2 separate regions of the Homo sapiens genome follow, and region 2 is linked to region 1. Evidence: fine-mapped expression QTL. A gene starts in region 1. The other region holds a variant in brackets. All regions are shown on one strand. Distances are between the middles of the regions.

Region 1 (8,325 bases):
CTGAGGGCCTAGCCACCCCCGCTCTCCACTCTCCACTCTCACTTCCAGCCCAGCCCGCCCAGCCCATCCAGCCCGTCCAGCCCTGCTGCTCAGGAGCCTGGGGGAGATCCGGTTCTCTCCCAGTCAGCCTTGCTGTGCGCGGCTTCTTGCCACCGTTTAGAAATGGGCTTGGCAGCACAACCTCGTGGAGGTGAGACTGGGGCTCCTGGTTCTGCAAGTACCTCGCATACAGCAGGTGCTTCATTAATGCCTCGTGACATGAACAGGGCAGTGAGGTGGTAGCTGAAAGAGCAGGGTCCAGCCCTCCCCATCCCCTGTGACCCTGAGCCATCACTTACACAGCTTAGTTTGTCTTCTTGAAGGGGTTGGGGCTCATACTCTCAAATGAGACTGAAGGTGTGAAAACACCCTGAGCACTGAGGCGTGGGGTCCCCTTAGGTTCTCCTTAGCCTCGTCATGCACTGGATGACGTCTGAGGTCCCTGAAGCTCTGTTGCTGGTGCCCAGGTAGGACCCAAACCCTGCCCGTTCCTTTTAAAACCCTCATACTGTCTCTTAACGCCCAGTGCCAACCTGTGCACTGAGCAGCCCCCGCCAGGAGCATCTTTAGCAGGGTCTTATGCCTGCACCTAGGGCTATTGGTCTGAGCGTCTTTGAGAGCCATTTCAGGGACCCCAAACCACAAATGCAGAATCCCTCGAAGGCTTATCACAATGCACTGGAATTGTGCATTCTCAGTGGGTGTTCTGGCCCTGTCCTGGCACGAGAGAGTGGAGAATAGCAGAATGGAAAGGACAGAGCTTCTGCATCAAATTGACCTGGGTTCCAAGTCAGCACCAAAAACTCCACTGAAAGGGTCTCCCAAGATGCTGAGCACCAATACCCATGCTCAGAGATGACAATCAAGGCAGAAGAAAGAGTAAAGAAGGAAATAGGCACCCAGAAAACACAACTTTGAGTCTGGCCATGCGATTTAAAGTAAAATGACAACAAACTGCACAGGTCAGCAGGAAAAGTCTTCAGAGAAGTGCTCCAAAGCTGTCCTGGCCAGCGTCATGCCTGCTCTGGTAGGAAGGACAAGGCATCCAGGGAGAGAGTTCTTGCTTACCAAAGGGGAGTCTGAGTCCAGAGACGGGAGCTGGTCTTTGACAGCCTTGAGGATGGCATCCCAGGGCCCCATCTGGGAGGCCCAGGGAGAGCCCAGCGAGGGTGCCATGCCTTTATCGTTGGATGCCATGAGGGCCCAGGCTTCCAGATGCCTTCTCAGTGCACCATAATCCGGGGAGCTCTGTGGGGTACACAGGGTGATGGAAGAGGGTCCGGGCCACTGAAGGTCAGGAGAGCAGGGGCTGCTCTACCAGCTGTAGGAGACCAAACAGGCTGGCAGGCCTCACCACCTGCCTCAGTTTCCTTCTAGTTATGCAAGCTCCTGTTAGTGCCAGGCACTGTGTGTGTACGTGTGTGTGTGTGTTCCCACTCATGCACACATGTGGAGCCTGCAGGTATATAATGTATATAGTGATATATACATAATAATATACAAATATATGTATTGATATAAATATACCTATGTAGATATATGTACATGTTATATAGAATGCCATATGTACGATATATAATGATATATAGGTATATTTTATATATACCCCATATAGCATAACTATTCTCTTCATTTCATAGGCTCAGGGTGTTTAGTAAATAGCAACAGTGGACTCTGAATCAGGGGGAATTTCAAGTCCTACTACCCTTTACTGCCCTTTACCAAGGAACAGAAGACACCTTGCTTTTTTGTTTTGGAGACAGGGTCTGGCTTTGTCGCCCAGGCTAGAGTGCAGTGGTACAATGATAGCTCACTGAAGCCTCGGCCTCCTGAGCTCAAGTGATCCTCCCACCTCAGCCTCCTGAATAACTGGGACTACAGGTGTGTACCACCACATCTGGCTAACATTTTTATTTTTTGTAGAGATGGAGTCTCCCTGTTGCCCAGGCTGGTCTCAAACTCCTGGCCTCAAGTGATCCTCTTGCCTCAGCCTCCCAAAGTGCTGGGATTACAGGCATGTGCCATCGCGCCTGGCTGACAGTTTGGAGTCACTAAGTGATTTTTTTTTTTTTTTGGAGTCACTACTCTGACCAGCCCCTGCATTTATATCTTAGAGTCTTAAAGGAGATGGTCCTGTTATTCAGGGGGCTGGGGAGCTTGAGCTTGAGAGCTGGGGGGTGAGGGTCCTCTAGAGCCAGTGTCAGGAGAACTCTGCAGCTCGAGAGGCCGCTGTGGCTTTGGCCCTGCAGTCAGTGCCCGTTCATCCCCAATCAGGGCAGCGGCAGGAGATGTGAATTGGGGGCTGCTTGCTTCCTCTGTACTTCTGGGAATAGGGCAGGTGCTTGGTGCACTCTGAACTGGGAGCAGCGGGTTGGGGACGCATCTGGTGCACACAGCCAGCGGGTGTTTTTTGTAACTAGAGCTCTGTTCCGCAATTCAGGGCACAGTATTTCTTAGGGCAACAGAATCGTCGGGATGAAGAGGGCCTCCAGAGACTCTGATAAACCCTTCAGGCGGACAAGACAATAGGGGAGGGAACGGCATTACCGGCAGAAGGAAGAGCATGTACAGTAGCTCAAAGGAATGAACCGCCCAACAGGTTTAAGGGAAGAAAGTGTCAGTTGCTGGACTCTCCGGTGAAAACGGACCAGACAATGCAGGGCCCTGAACGCCAAGTTGAGGAGCTCAGAGCATCCAGAAGGCGAAGGGGAGGCTCGGAGCCGCCTCTGAATAACGGCCTTCCGGCTCCGTCTCGGGGTGGGTTTCTCAGCTGCAGCCTGTTAGCCCCGCCACAGCCCCGCCCCGGTTCTCAGAGCCCCGCCCCCAGCCGGCCTGCCACGAGGCTGCCGGTTGTTATGGCAACCAGACGCCAACAGCCTCCCGGGTCGAGCTTTTAAATTTTAAAGCTGTGGAAGTGGAAAGCCCATCGCTCCTCCTCTCACCCACCCCCAGCCCGTATTTCCCCGCGTTTTGTTCAACTCCCTGCAGGCGCAGCAGGCCCGAGGCCCCTCACCTCAGGCCTCTGCCTCCACTCCCCGCGCTGTCCTGACAGCGCTATAAACAGCCTCCAGCGCGTCACTCCGCTCGCGTCCGCCCCTCGGGCCGCGCCGCAGGTACAGAGGCTGTCCCCTTCTTCAGCACTCTCCCTCTCAGCGGAGCTTTACATTACTAGACTGCCTCCGCCTTCCCCCCACCCCGCCCAGCTCCTCTTTCGGGCCTTTGCGCGTCCTGCCTCTCCTGCAATGGGATTGGTTCCCCTGGAGGGCGGGGACGGAGCAGGACAAACACCACTAGCTCATTGGCTACCGCGGGCATCAGACAGCGAGCCGGGAAGCTGACCGGAAGGTCCGGGTGCGGGACGTGTGCATTCCACGGCGCCCGGGAGCTGTCCCGGTGCCGACCCGCGAGCTTCCCGGCGTGCTCCGCGCCCTCCCGCAACTACTTCCGGGGCGGGTGCCGGGGGCGGTGCCCCGGCGAGGGAGCGTGGCGGCGAGCTGTTTGGGGGGGGTTGGCGACGGCAGCCCGAGGGCGGCGCAAGGCCTGAGGCCCAGCACAGGTGGGTTCCGCGGCGGCCCGGCCCCAGCACTTGCCGGCACCTGCAGCCCGCCTAGACCCGGCGCTCGGGCGTCCCGCGCTGCACTTGCTCGCCGCGTGACTGGAGGACCGAGCCCCCACATTTTCTTTATGTGGTTGTGGTGGGGGCACAGTAATGCCCTGTGCGCCGTAGCGTTCCTGTGGGGATGTGGCCGGGGGGCGTCGGGAAGCGTCACTGCTGTGAGTTACGGGTTTGTCGGCCAGGGACCCGCCCCGGGGCCAGTGAGCTACCTTTGCGATGCGGTTCCACGGGGCGAGAGGGGGTGCCTGGGTGCTTTCACAGACCTCCTCTGTGGGCGTGACAGTTACCACCAGCATCACATTTGTTAAGATTTTTAAAAATTTTTTAATTTTTGTGGGTACGTAGTAGGTGTATATATTTATGGCGTATATGAGAGATTTTGATACAGGCATGCAGTTCGTAATAATCACATGTAAAATGGGGGTCTCCATCCCTTCAAGCATTTATCCTTTGTGTTACAAACAATATGATTATACTCTTTGAATTATTTTTAAATGTGCAGCCGGGCGCGGTGGCTCACTCACGCCTGTAATCCTAGCACTTTGGGAGGCAAAGGCGGGCGGATCACCTGAAGTCAAGGATTTGAGACCAGCCTGGCCAACATGGGGACACTTCGTCTCTACTAAACATACGAAAACTAGGCTGGCATGGTGGCTCATACCTGTAATCTCAGCTACTCGGGAAGCTGAGGCAGGAGAATCGCTTGAACCCAGGAGGCGGAGGTTGCATTGAGCCGAGATCACGCCGCTGCACTCTAGCCTGGGTAACAGAGTGAGATTATGTCTCAAAAAAAATAATAATAAATAAATAAAATGTGCAATTAGATTATATTGACTATAGTCACCCTGTTGTGCGGTCAAATACTAGATCTTTTTTTTTTTTTTTTTTTTTTTGAGACGGAGTCTCGCTTTGTCGCCCAGGCTGGAGTGCAGTGGCTTGATCAAATACTAGATCTTATTCATTCTGTTTTTTTTGTATCCATTAAGCATCCCCACCCTCCACTACCCTTCCCAGCCTTGGTTACACTAGAAGTAACCATCCTTCTACTTTCTATGTCCATGAGTTCAGTTGTTTTGATTTTTAGATAACCACAAATAATTGAGAACATGCAATATTTATCTTTCTGTGCCTGGCTTATTTCACTAAACATAACGATCTCCGCTTCCATCCATGTTTTTGCAAATGATAGGATCTCATTCTTTTTTTATGGCTGAATAGTACTCCATTGTGTCTAAGTACCACATTTTCTTTAGGATTCACTGTAAAGGTAACAGATACTTAGCATTTTCAGAATGGACAGAACCAAAAAGTTGAATGAAAACTAAAACGTCTTATCTCTAATGCTACTTTACACCACACCACTCGGGATGGGACATTTTAGTTTTCACTTTAGTGTTTTTTTTTTGTTTTTTTTTTTGAGACAGAATTTCGCTCTGTTGCCCAGGCTGGAGTGCAGTGGCTTGAGCTCGGCTCACTGCAATCGCCTCCCAGGCTCAAGCGATTCTCTTGCCTCAGCCTCCTGAGTACTGAGACTACAGGCGCCCACCACCACACCCAGCTAATTTTTGTAATTTTAGTAAAGATGGGAGTTCACCATTTTGGCCAGGGTGGTCTCGAACTCCTGGCCTCAAGTGGTCCGTCACGCTTGGTCTGGTTCTCATTGTCCTTCAGACCTCTGGGGATGTCAGATATGCAAGTCTCCAGTAAATAGAGAACACGGCCTCACCCTGCAGGAGGCCTTTGGCGTGGAAGAGACATGCCCAGTGAAGGCTTGAGGGAGGTATGGAAGGGACTCTGAACTGACCCTCAGCTCGTTTGGTTTCTTATCCAGGCTTCGTTGGCCAGGGCTGTTAGGGTGGGATTCTCACCTGCAAAGTGAGGGAAGGGCACTGCACGATCTTGGGCTCTGCTAGCTGAAGAGGTGGTGGCTCCAGGAAGGAGGGCTTTGCTTGCCCCACCGCACCTACACACACTCTTCACCAAGGGTCTGTGAAGTGTTCGTCTCCCACATTGGTGGCTTGTTTCTTTAGCCATCTTGGCTGTCACCTGGGGCTTGGAAGCATTCTTTAATAGAAACTGAGGTCCTCATCGCATCTATTAACTACCATAGCACCTGTAGGTCATCACAACCTGACAAGGCCTTTGTTTTCGCCTTTGCTCCCTTTCCTACCCTTGTTTCCTGGCACTCTTGTACCTAAGGATTCTACTAGGAAGCTGATGACCTTGCCTTGATTTGGGGATTCCTGGTGTGCCGTTACCCATGTAGGCCCATCTCGGGGAAAGTGTTACCTCACCAGTTCACCGGCCTGTTATATTTCCCCCCATAGCTCTCTCTTCAAAGGATGCCTAAGTGGATTCCTATTCAGTTGACGGTTGCTGCGTGCCACCAGTCACATCCTGGTTTGTCTGTTGGGGAATTGCTTTCTATTTTTTTCAGAAAAATTTATTTTTACTTTTTTGAAATTTTCAATTTCATAACCATTCCAGAAAAATTAATTTATATTTAAAATTTACAGGCCAGGTGCAGTGGCTCACGCCTATATTTCCAGGACTTTGAGAGGCTGAGGCGGGCGGATCACCTGAGGTGAGGAGTTCGAGACCAGCCTGGCCAACATGGTGAAACCCCCGTCTCTACTAAAAATACAAAAATTAGCCTAACATGATGGCGCACACCTGTAATCTCAGCTATTCAGGTGGCTGAGGCTCAAGAAGCCCTTAAACCCAGGAGGCAGAGGTTCCAGTGAGCTGAAATCATGCCACTGCACTCCAGCCTGGGCAACAGAGCGAGACTGTCTCAAAAAAATAAATAAAATTTACATACAGTAAAATTCATTTTGGTGTTCAGTTCTGTGGTTTCATAAAGGCATGGAGTCACAGATCCACCGTCACAGTCATACAGGTCTATCGTCCCCCAAATTCCCTCTCTGCCCCAACCTCCAACCCTTTAATTTTGCCTTTTCCAGAATGTCATGTAAGTGAAATTATACTGTAGGCAGGCTTCTTCCATTTAGCGTAAATCATTTGAAATTCATTCACGTGTTGCATGTCAACTGTTGGATCCTTGTGTTTAATGCTGAGTAGCATCCATTATATGGATGTGCCACCGTTTGTTTATCCATTCTTTTATGTATCATAATAGCAGCCTTTTTAGATATGTCCCCGTTAGACAGTGAGGCACTAGGGATTGGAGTTGCTAAGTAGCAGAGCTGCTTTTTTGTTGTTTTTTTTTTTTGTTTTGTTTTTGGAGACAAAGTCTTGCTCTGTTTCCCAGGCTGGAGTGCAATGGCGTGATCTTGGCTCACCGCAACCTCCGCCTCCTCAGTTCAAGTGATGCTCCTACCTCAGCCTCCCGAGTAGCTGGCCTTCATGCCCAGCTAATTTTTGTATTTTTAGTAGAGACAGGATTTCACCATGTTGGCCAGGCTGGTCTTGAACTCTTGACCTCAAGTGATCTGCCCACCTTGGCCTCCCAAAGTGCTGGGATTACAGGTGTGAGCCACCGCACCGGGTCCAAGCTGAATTTTGATCAAACCCCAAATCCAGGGTTCTTCCCCACCACATCAAGGAACTGATTGGGTTAAACAACCCAATTAGCATTTCTTCACTGCCCATCCAAGAGGTTGTCAGGTTCCTAGAGTTGGTGGAGAATTCTCTTTTACCTGGTGCCTGCGGTTGGAAGGAGGAGCAGGTACTCCACAGTTAATGCCTCACCATATGTGCTCCTCTTTACTGGTGTGATAGCAGGCTCACCAGATTTAGCATGGTTGGGACTGCCCAAAGCATACATTATTTCAGCAAATAAATTTGTCTGAGTTACTCCCGGGGTTGACTGCACTGGGTTATCAGTCTGCTAGTGCAGTGGTGTAGCAGGGGCAGGACCAGCCTGTTTCATGCCCTGGAACAACCAGCCAGGAAAGATCTAACCCTTGGGCCTTCCTCCTCAGTGATGTCCGAGCTCAGCGATGAAGCCAGCGAGCCGGAACTCCTGAACCGCAGCTTGTCCATGTGGCACGGGCTCGGGACACAGGTCAGCGGGGAGGAGCTGGATGTCCCCCTGGATCTTCACACAGCTGCTTCCATTGGCCAGTATGAAGTGGTGAAGGAGTGTGTGCAGCGGTAAGAGATCTCGGGGAACTTCCTCTCACATTTTGAGCAGCGCAGTGATGGCTTCGATCCCACGTGATGGGGCTTTGCACACAGTTGTGGATGTTTAATGCGTGTAGAATAGGTTAACCTGCTTATCTCAGGCAGCTGTCAGTAAGTATTGATGCTGAGCCCTGACAAAGAGGCCGTTTTTATTCCTAGGAAGAAAAAGAGGGAGTAAACTTTGATCAGAAGCTTATAAACAGTCATTCTTTAACCAGACTAATTTTATTCACTAATTGCAGAAATGCCCAAACAAACAAGCAAAATAAAAATAAAGACAGAAAGTGATGGCCTGGTGCGGTGGCTCACACTTGTAATTCCAGCACTTTGGGAGGCTGAGATGGGCGGGTCACTTGAGGTCAGGAGTTTGAGACCATTCTGGATAACATGATGAAACCCCATCTCTACTAAAAATATAAAAGTTAGCTGGGTGTGGTGGCATGTACCTGTAATCCCAGCTACTCAGGAGGCTGAGGCAGGAGAATCGCTTGAACCCGGGAGGTGGAGGTTACAGTGAGCTGAGA
Region 2 (8,325 bases), 92 kb after region 1:
TTTTAAGCTTCAATAACTTCAGAGAAAGTAATTAAGCTGGGCCAGTGGTTCATGCCTGGGCGCTTTGGAAGATCAAGGCAGGAGGATCGCTCGAGCCCCAGAGTTCAAGACCAGCCTGGGCAACATAGGGAGACGCTGTCTCTACAAAAAATTCTTAAAAATTAGCTGGGCATGGCAGCGCATGCCTGTAGTCCTAGCTACTCAGGACACTCACTGAGGCAGGAAGATCGCTTGAGTCCAAGAGTTCGAGGCTGCAGTAAGCCATGATCACACCACACTGCACTCCAGCCTGGGCAACAGAGCAAGACCCTGTCTCTCTTCCCGTCCCCCCACCACCACCCCCACCCCCGCCAACTCTCACTCTATATATATATGCACACGCATATATACATATAAATAACTTCAGAGAAACAAATGCTACAAACTAAAACACCTGCATAGGTAATAAGTGATTATTAATTTTTTCCTTTATCTTTTTAAAATTAAGTTTTCTACAATTAACATATATCATTTGTAAAACAAGAAAAATTATTTTTAAAAGATTAGAGACAAGGAAGAAGAGTGTTTGTTAAAGCAATGGTTGTAATATCACAAAACTGGGACCATGTTCTAGAATTAGATCAAGGTAATGGTTGCATGACTGAATATACCAAAAATCACTGACTTGTACACTTTAAAAAGGTGTCCCCATGGTAAGTGAATTTTACCTCAAAAAAACTTAACTGGAAGGACGTAAGTTGTGAGGTGATGAATCATTAATTTTTGTACTAGGTTTTTATGTCAATTTTTGTGAAGTAACTTGGAAATAGATGCTATTGTTACATAAAAATCTTGCTAATTCCTATCTAATTGATGTTATCAAGGTTTCTCAACTTAAAAAACAGAACCCAGGTGCAGTGGCTCACACCTGTAATTCCAGCACTTTGGGAGGCCAAGGTGGGTGGATCACCTGAGGTCAGGAGTTGGAGACCAGCCTGACCATAATGGAGAAACCCTGTCTCTACTAAAAATACAAAATTACCCAGGCGTGGTGGTGTGTGCCTGTAATCCCAGCTACTTGGGAGGCTGAGGCAGGAAAATCGCTTGAACCTGGGAGGCAGAGGTTGCCGTGAGCTGAGATTGGGCCAGCTGTCCACTCCAGCCTGGACAACAAGAGTGAAACTCCATCAAAAAAAAAAAAAAAAAAAAACTGGTAATTGAGGGGTCCAAGCACGGTGGCTAACACCTGTAAACCCAGCACTTTGGGAGGCTGAGGGGGGTGGATCACTTGAGGTAAGGAGTTCTAGACCAGCCTGGCCAACATGGTAAAACCCCATCTCTACTAAAAATACAAAACAAAACAAAAAAAAATTAGCCGGGAGTGGTAGTACATGCCTGTAATCCCAACTACTCAGGAGGCCAAGACAGCAGAATTGCTTGCATCTGGGAGGCAGAGGTTGCAGGGAGCCGAGATTGCACCACCTCACTCCACTCCAGCCTGGGCAACAGAGCGAGACTCCATCTCAAAAAAAACAAACAAACAAAAAAAACTAGCATTGAGGCTGAAATCATTTTAGCAACAGCTTGTATCCAACTGTGAATGCATGAATTAACCAGGAGAAAAAGGAACCCATCTACTCAAGAGACATATTTCCAATGTTTTTTCGTATTTCTTCTTGTTATTGATAAAAACTGGAATATTTGTTTGATCAATTGGGTATTAGTAATGGCCATTCAAAACACGAAAAACTCACAGCTTATGATGTAAAATTATTTAAAATTCTAATTTCAATTGGTGCGCATATTTTGGTTGCAGACACACAATATGATCAATACAAGATTTTTGCCAGGCGCGGTGACTCACGCGTGTAATCCCAGCACTTTGGGAGGCCAAGGCAGGTGGATCACGAGGTCAGGAGATGGAGACCATCCTGGCTAACACGGTGAAACCCCGTCTCTACTAAAAAATACAAAAAATTAGCCAGGTGTGGTGGCACGCGCCTGTAGTCCCAGGTACTTGGGAGGGGCTGAGGCAGGAGAATTCCTTGAACCCAGGAAGCGGAGGTTGCAGTGAGGGAGACTCTGTCTCAGAAAAAAAAAAAAAAAAAAAAATCAAGCAAGGCCGGGTACAGTAGCTCACGCCTGTAATCCTACCACTTTGGGAGGCCAAGGTGGGAGGTTCACTTGAGCCCAGCAGTTCGAGACCTGCCTGGACAACATGGCAAAACCCCATCTCTGCCAAAAATACAAAAATTAGTCCAGGCTCAGTGGCTCGTGCCTATAATCCCAGTGCTCTGGGAGGCCGAGAGGAGTGGATCACAAGGTCAGGAGATCGAGATTGAGACCAGCCTGGCCAACATGGCGAAATCCCATCTCTACTAAAAATACAAAAATTAGCCAGGCATGGTGGTGTGTGCCTATAGTCCCAGCTACTTAGGAGGCTGAGGCACGAGAATCGCTTGAACTTGGGAGGCAGAGGCTGCAGTGAGCTGAGATTGTGCCACTTCACTCTAGCCTGGGTGACAGAGTGGGACTGTCTCAAAACAAAACAAAACAAAAAAAATTAGCTAGCACGGTGATGCGTACTTGCAGTCCAAGGTACTCGGGAGGCTGAGGTGGAAGGATCACTTGAGCCTGGGAGGTCAAGGCTGCAGTGAACCCTGATCAAGCCACTGCATTATAGCCTAGGCAACAGAGCCAGACCCTTTAACAAAAAAAAAAAAAAAATTCAAGCGTTAAAAATTATAACCCACCAGGCACGGTGCTCACCCCTGTAATCCCAGCACTTTGGGAGGCCAGGGCAGGCAAATCACTTGAGGTCTGCCGTCAGGAGTTGAAGACCAGCCTGGCCAACATGGGAAAGTCTGTTTCTACTAAAAATACAAAAATTAGGGCCGGGTGCGGTGGCTCACGCCTGTAATCCCAGCACTTTGGGAGGCCGAGGCGGGCGGATCACAAGGTCAGGAGTTTAAGACCAGTCTGGCAACAAGGTGAAACCCCCATCTCTACTAAAAACACACACACACACACACACACACACACACACACAAATTAGCTGGCCGTGGTGGTGCATGCCTGTAATCCCAGCTACTCAGAAGGCTGAGGCAGGAGAATCGCTTGAACTCAGGAGACGAAGGTTACCGTGAGCGGAGATCACACCATTGAACTCCAGCCTGGGTGACAGAAGACGACTCCGTTTCAAAAATAAATAAATAAATAAAAATACAAAAATTAGCTCATGCCTGTAATCCCCACTACTCGGGAGGCTGAGACAGGAGAATCTCTCGAACCCAAGAGGCAGAGGTTGCAGCGAGCTGAAATCGCGCCACTGCACTCCAGCCTGGGCGAAAGAGCAAGACGGTCTTTTTTAAAAAAAAAAAAAAAAAAGGAACCAAGTCATATGCTGACAGGGAAATGCATGACAGTGCAGGGTTACCGGATGGACCCTCAGCACTCAAGAACAGGGTCTACGTGATCAACACGGCGCAGACAATCAACAACTCACACCTGCAGGAGACGAGACCAACTGGGAAGAACTGGAAACACCTCACAGAGAATCCAGGCCAGCCGAGGGGGCTCACGCCTATAATCCCAGCACTTTAGGAGGCCAAGGTGGGCAAGATGGCTTGAAGCCACGAATTTCAGACCAGCCTGGGCGACATGGCGAGACCCTGTCTCTACAAAAAATACAAAAAGTGGCCAGGCGCAGTGGCTCACATCTGTAATCCCAGCACTTTGGGAGGCCGAGGCAGGCGAATCACCTGAGGTTGGGAGTTCGAGACCAGCCTGACCAACATGGAGAAACTCCCGTCTCTACTAAAAATGCAAAATTAGCTGGGCATGGTGGTGGGTGCCTGTAATCCCATCTACTCAGGAGGCTAAGGCAGGAGAATC[A/G]CTTGAACCTGGGAGGCAGAGGTTGCGGTCAGCCGAGACTGCACCACTGCACTCCAGCCTGGGGCAACAAGAGCAAAACGCTGTCTTAAAAAAAAAAAAAAAAAAAGTAGCCAGGCACAGTGGTATGTGCCTGTAGTACCAGCCACTCAAGAGGCTGAGGCAGAAGGACCATGCGAGCCCAGCAATTTGAGGTTGCAGTGAGCTATGATTGGGCCCCTGGGCCACTGCACTCCAGCCCAAGCAACAGCGTGACTCTGTCTCCAAAAAACAAAAAAAAAATCCTATTGCTCACACATGGGTATCCACACATGGAGAAGAAACACGGGAAGGAGACCCTAGGTCCCTGATGGGGCAGGAGGAAGGGACCAGGCCTGGGGAAGTGTTAGGGGCGGGGCCGCCCTTTCCTTTGCCTCAAGAAGAATGACACACATGTGGTGTGTGCGTGCATGAGCTGTGTACATTTGTATGTGCACCAGCTCAGGACCAAGAGGAGCAGGCAGCGCTGCCAAGGGGGTGGAGGAAAAAGAAAAGGAGACTGTGAGTGGGAAGTGGGAAGGCAGCTGTGGAGGTGAAAGAACGCAGGTGGAACCACACCCACCAGGCTCTCCCTCCACACCTGCTGAGGTCAGCGCCTTCACCCCCTTTCCCGCTGGCCCCAAGGAAAGAGGGGCAGACAAGGCCCACACTTTCAAACATACAGGAAACGAAGCTTGGCTAAGGCCCCCAAGCTCATCAGCGGTGGAGCTGGGGCGCACACCCCGACTCCAGAGCCCACTTGTTTCTCAGTCTCTGTGCTGGGCACCTCCCCTCCTGCAGCCGGGGGACCACGGGGACAGGAGTCAGTGGTGTCATCGCCAGTGACAATGGGCACTGTTCACACACAAAAAACCACACCCAAGGGGCTTCCCCAGCAGAATGGCTGAAAATCCTCCTGTGGGCTCACAGAGCCCGACAGACGCCACAGGGTCCCAAGGTTGTCCTGGAAATCCCGGCTATGTGGAACCAACACACTCAAGGACCCAGGGCCTCAGGGCAGTCCTCGAACACCACTAAAACAAAGGCATCCTTCTCCCCTGGTTTACTGTCACCCCCAGGGGGACTGGAGCCCAGCAGTTCACTGCCTCCCTGCCCGAGGGATTCGGACTCTGGGTGGCTTGCAGGTGTCCGGGCAACCTGCACAGGGAGACAACAGCCACAGAAATGAAAACTGCAAAATCCCTTCCGTGGGAGGCCTCGAGGCATTCCCCGAACAGCCTCAATGCTCTCCACACATGCCTCCAGGCAGGAGGATACATACGTTTGTCATCTCTACAGCTGAGAAAAACCAAAACCACAAGGCCACAGGTCAGAGGCTGTCTTGGGGATGGCCAGGGGAGGGGGACAGCCCTGTCCCTTCCATACAGGCCACAGAGTGAGCCAAGAAGCCTTCTGGGCCCGTCTTGTGTCTCTTGCACCTTGTCAATATCTTGTGGTACACAGTGTGCAATGAACGCCACCAGACATCTGCGAGAGGAAAACAGGGACATTCCGAATCACTGAAACAAGCCAACCTTGGAAGGGCGGGAGGCCCGGGACGCGGCAAGGCCTCCCAAGAACGCGGGCGAAAGGCGAAGCACAGGCCATCTGAGTGCACAGACGGACTCAACGCAGCAGAGGAGCCGCAGCAAACACCGTCGGAGCCGCGGAGCGTGGAGGGCAGATGAGTAAAGTAGGGTCTTGCTATCAAGCCTGAAAGCACCTGCCCCGCCTGCCTGTGCCTGAACTCCACGCTCACAGTTTTCAGGGAGAAGTCTGACCCATGTTTATCAGACCAGAGTTCAGGGCCCACCGGGTCAGAGGTTCGTGATCTGGACCCTTGAAATGCATTTGCCTCCAAACCCACCAACCCTGGTACACCCCTAAGAGAAAGAGGCCGGGCTCAGATCATGTCAGAAAGGCCTTTCCTCCACACCCCCAATACGGGGACCATGTGTGGATCCACAGGCAGGCGTTCCTCATCCTCCCGCACCGAGGGGGCAGACGCTGTGCATCTGGGGACAGGATGCCCAAGTCATAGGCAGGCCTTGGAGACAACTGTCCTGCCTGTTCCATCCTAGGTAGCCCAGGCTTCCTCCTGACCTTCCAGATGCCCCCAGCCTAATGATGCCCAATGGTGAAGGTTGCTGCACCCTGACCTGAAGGCCATGGCCAAGCTCCCCGCTCTGCAGACCAGTGATTCCACATGCCCTGCCCACCCCGCCCCACCTTCCCGGCCTGGGCTATTCCCTCCTTGGGATGCCGCGGTGAGGCCAGCCTGGACCACCACGCAGGCCAACTGCCAGCTCGTGGTCAACGCTCCCGCCGCCATTCTCCTCATAGTGTCACTGCTGCTTTATCTCGTGTACCTGTTGGTTCCCTCTGTCCTCCCCAGCCCAAAAGTAGGCATCATCCTCAACTGTCCACGGCCCCGCATCCTCATGACCTCCCCGCTCCATGCCTAAGAGCTGGATGAACACTCACCTAATGAATGAAAGCAGATGCTGTTGTTACTGGTGTTTGACAGTCAGGGAAACTGGCCCGGTGAGGCTGAGTGACCTGCTCAGGTCACACAACCAGTGAGAGACATTCTCACTGGGACCCCTGGGCAGACTCCAGAGCCTGCACTGTCAGCCATGGGAAGTAAGCCAGGATGTGAATGAAGACACCCAGCATGTCTGCCTCCTAAGAAACACAGCGGCCCAGGGACCCGGGACACCAGGGGTGGACTTCACTGGGCTGCCTCAGCCATCGTTCCCACCCGAGGAAGGGGGAGTGGGAAGGCCACGAGGTGTCTGCAGGGGCTCCGAACAGCTCACTGATTCCACCTGCTGAAAATTCTCCTCGTGTTCTAACAGGACAGGTGTTCCTGCTTACCAGTCTCACAAAATCAGCTGCTGCATTGCCAATAAACCCCAGGTGGGCCAGACCTGCACAAGATCAGGTCCCAGGATGCCCCCACCAGGTGGGAGGCCAGAGGGGGTGGCAGCCCCACAGCCTTCGAGTGCTCTGGGGGTCCCACCCAGCTGTATCACCCACGCATTGATCCCCCTGGGCCTACCATGCTTCCCTGCCTACTACCAGTCCCCCACCCAGCTGGGGAAGTCAACATGGGCTGAGATATTTATTTATTTTTTTTTTTGAGACGGACTCTCGCTCTGTCACCCAGGCTGGAGTGCAGTGGTACGATCACGGCTCACTGCAACCTCTGCCTCCCGGGTTCAGGTGATTCTCCTGCCTCAGCCTTCCAAATAGCTGAGATTACAGGCACCCGCCACCACGCCCAGCAATTTTCTGTATTTTTAGTAGAGACGGAGTTTCACCATGTTGGTCAGGCTGGTCTCAAACTCCTGACCTCGTAATCCACCCGCCTCGGCCTCCCAAAGTGCTGGGATTACAGGGAGCCACCACACCCAACCTTGATTTCTTTAACTGCAAACTTGAGATGAGAGGGCCACCCTAAACTCAGGACGTCCTGAGGATAAAAAATGCCAATTAACACAAAGGAGCCTCCGGCAGGTGTGAACACACTGGCTAGAAGTCCCTTTCGGACCTCCCATATGTAAACGTGATACCATATTAAATACAGGGCTCTGGCTTCCAGTGCGGAACACAAAGCTGAGAACAACTCTGACTAAGCAAAGACGCTGGGGCACGGAGGGGGCATAAGCTGTAGTCACCTTTTTTGTTGGGGGTGTGTCCTCCCCTTTTCTGGAAACAGCCTCCACCACCCTCAGGGTGGCCCCCACCCCCTAGACAGGGCTGGTTGGCCCTAAGGTGGACACTGGCACACTGGGCCATCCGAATTCTCCCTCCTGTGGAATGGGACCAGGGACGACGGCAGCACTTGGCCCTTGACCAGCCTGGTGGGTGGCGATGGCCTCACACACGCCGGAGCAGCTGGGGCGCTCTGCAGGACTGCAGGATGGCGCTGAGGCTGGAGCCGAACAGAGGCTCTGGGTTCCCGCAGCTTCCACTTGTCCGTTTCCCCTGAGGTTACTGGGACTTCCCTCGGAGCCTTCAATACACTCCATTTCTTGCCTGGGCTAGCTTCCATAAACGGCACTAAGGCGGCCAATTTCCAAAGAATTAAAACCATAATAAAAAGCACTTAGGAAAGAGCTCCTATAAACCAGTAAGAAAAAAAGATAACTCAATTTTTTTTTTGTTTTTTTCTTTGAGACAGTCTCACTCTGTCGCTCAGGCTGGAGTGCAATGGCGCGATCTTGGCTCACTGTAACCTCCATCTCCCAGGTTCAAGCGATTCTCCTGCCTCAGCCTCCCCAGGAGCTAGGATTACAGGCACCCAACACCATGCCCAGCTAATTTTTGAATTTTTAGTAGAGACGGGGTTTCACCATGTTGGCCGGGCTGGTCTTCAACTCCTGACCTGAGGTGATCTGCCCGCCTCAGCCTCCCAAAGTGCTAGAATTACAG

Evidence for each region. PIP is the estimated chance that this variant, and not a neighbour inherited with it, causes the effect.
Region 2: its variant is fine-mapped to the expression of ANKS3 in sun-exposed skin (GTEx, PIP 0.95).

Annotation. Positions count from the first base shown.
Region 1 is chr16:4,729,426-4,737,750 of GRCh38, reverse strand. ANKS3 (ankyrin repeat and sterile alpha motif domain containing 3) reads left to right here and starts at 3,480. Exons shown (of 18, transcript NM_133450.4): 1 at 3,480-3,813; 2 at 6,172-6,239; 3 at 7,600-7,771. The coding sequence starts at 7,602. It overlaps DNAAF8 (dynein axonemal assembly factor 8), which reads right to left and starts at 3,214. Exons shown (of 10, transcript NM_139170.3): 1 at 3,053-3,214; 2 at 1,108-1,287. The coding sequence starts at 1,236. RefSeq lists silencers at 3,355-3,584, 3,635-3,694.
Region 2 is chr16:4,637,170-4,645,494 of GRCh38, reverse strand. The region is part of intron 1 of MGRN1 (mahogunin ring finger 1); the gene reads right to left. Among named protein-coding and RNA genes, the nearest start is that of MGRN1, 17 kb to the right of the region's middle. RefSeq lists an enhancer at 7,258-8,222. The variant A/G (reference allele first, on the strand shown) is at 3,874.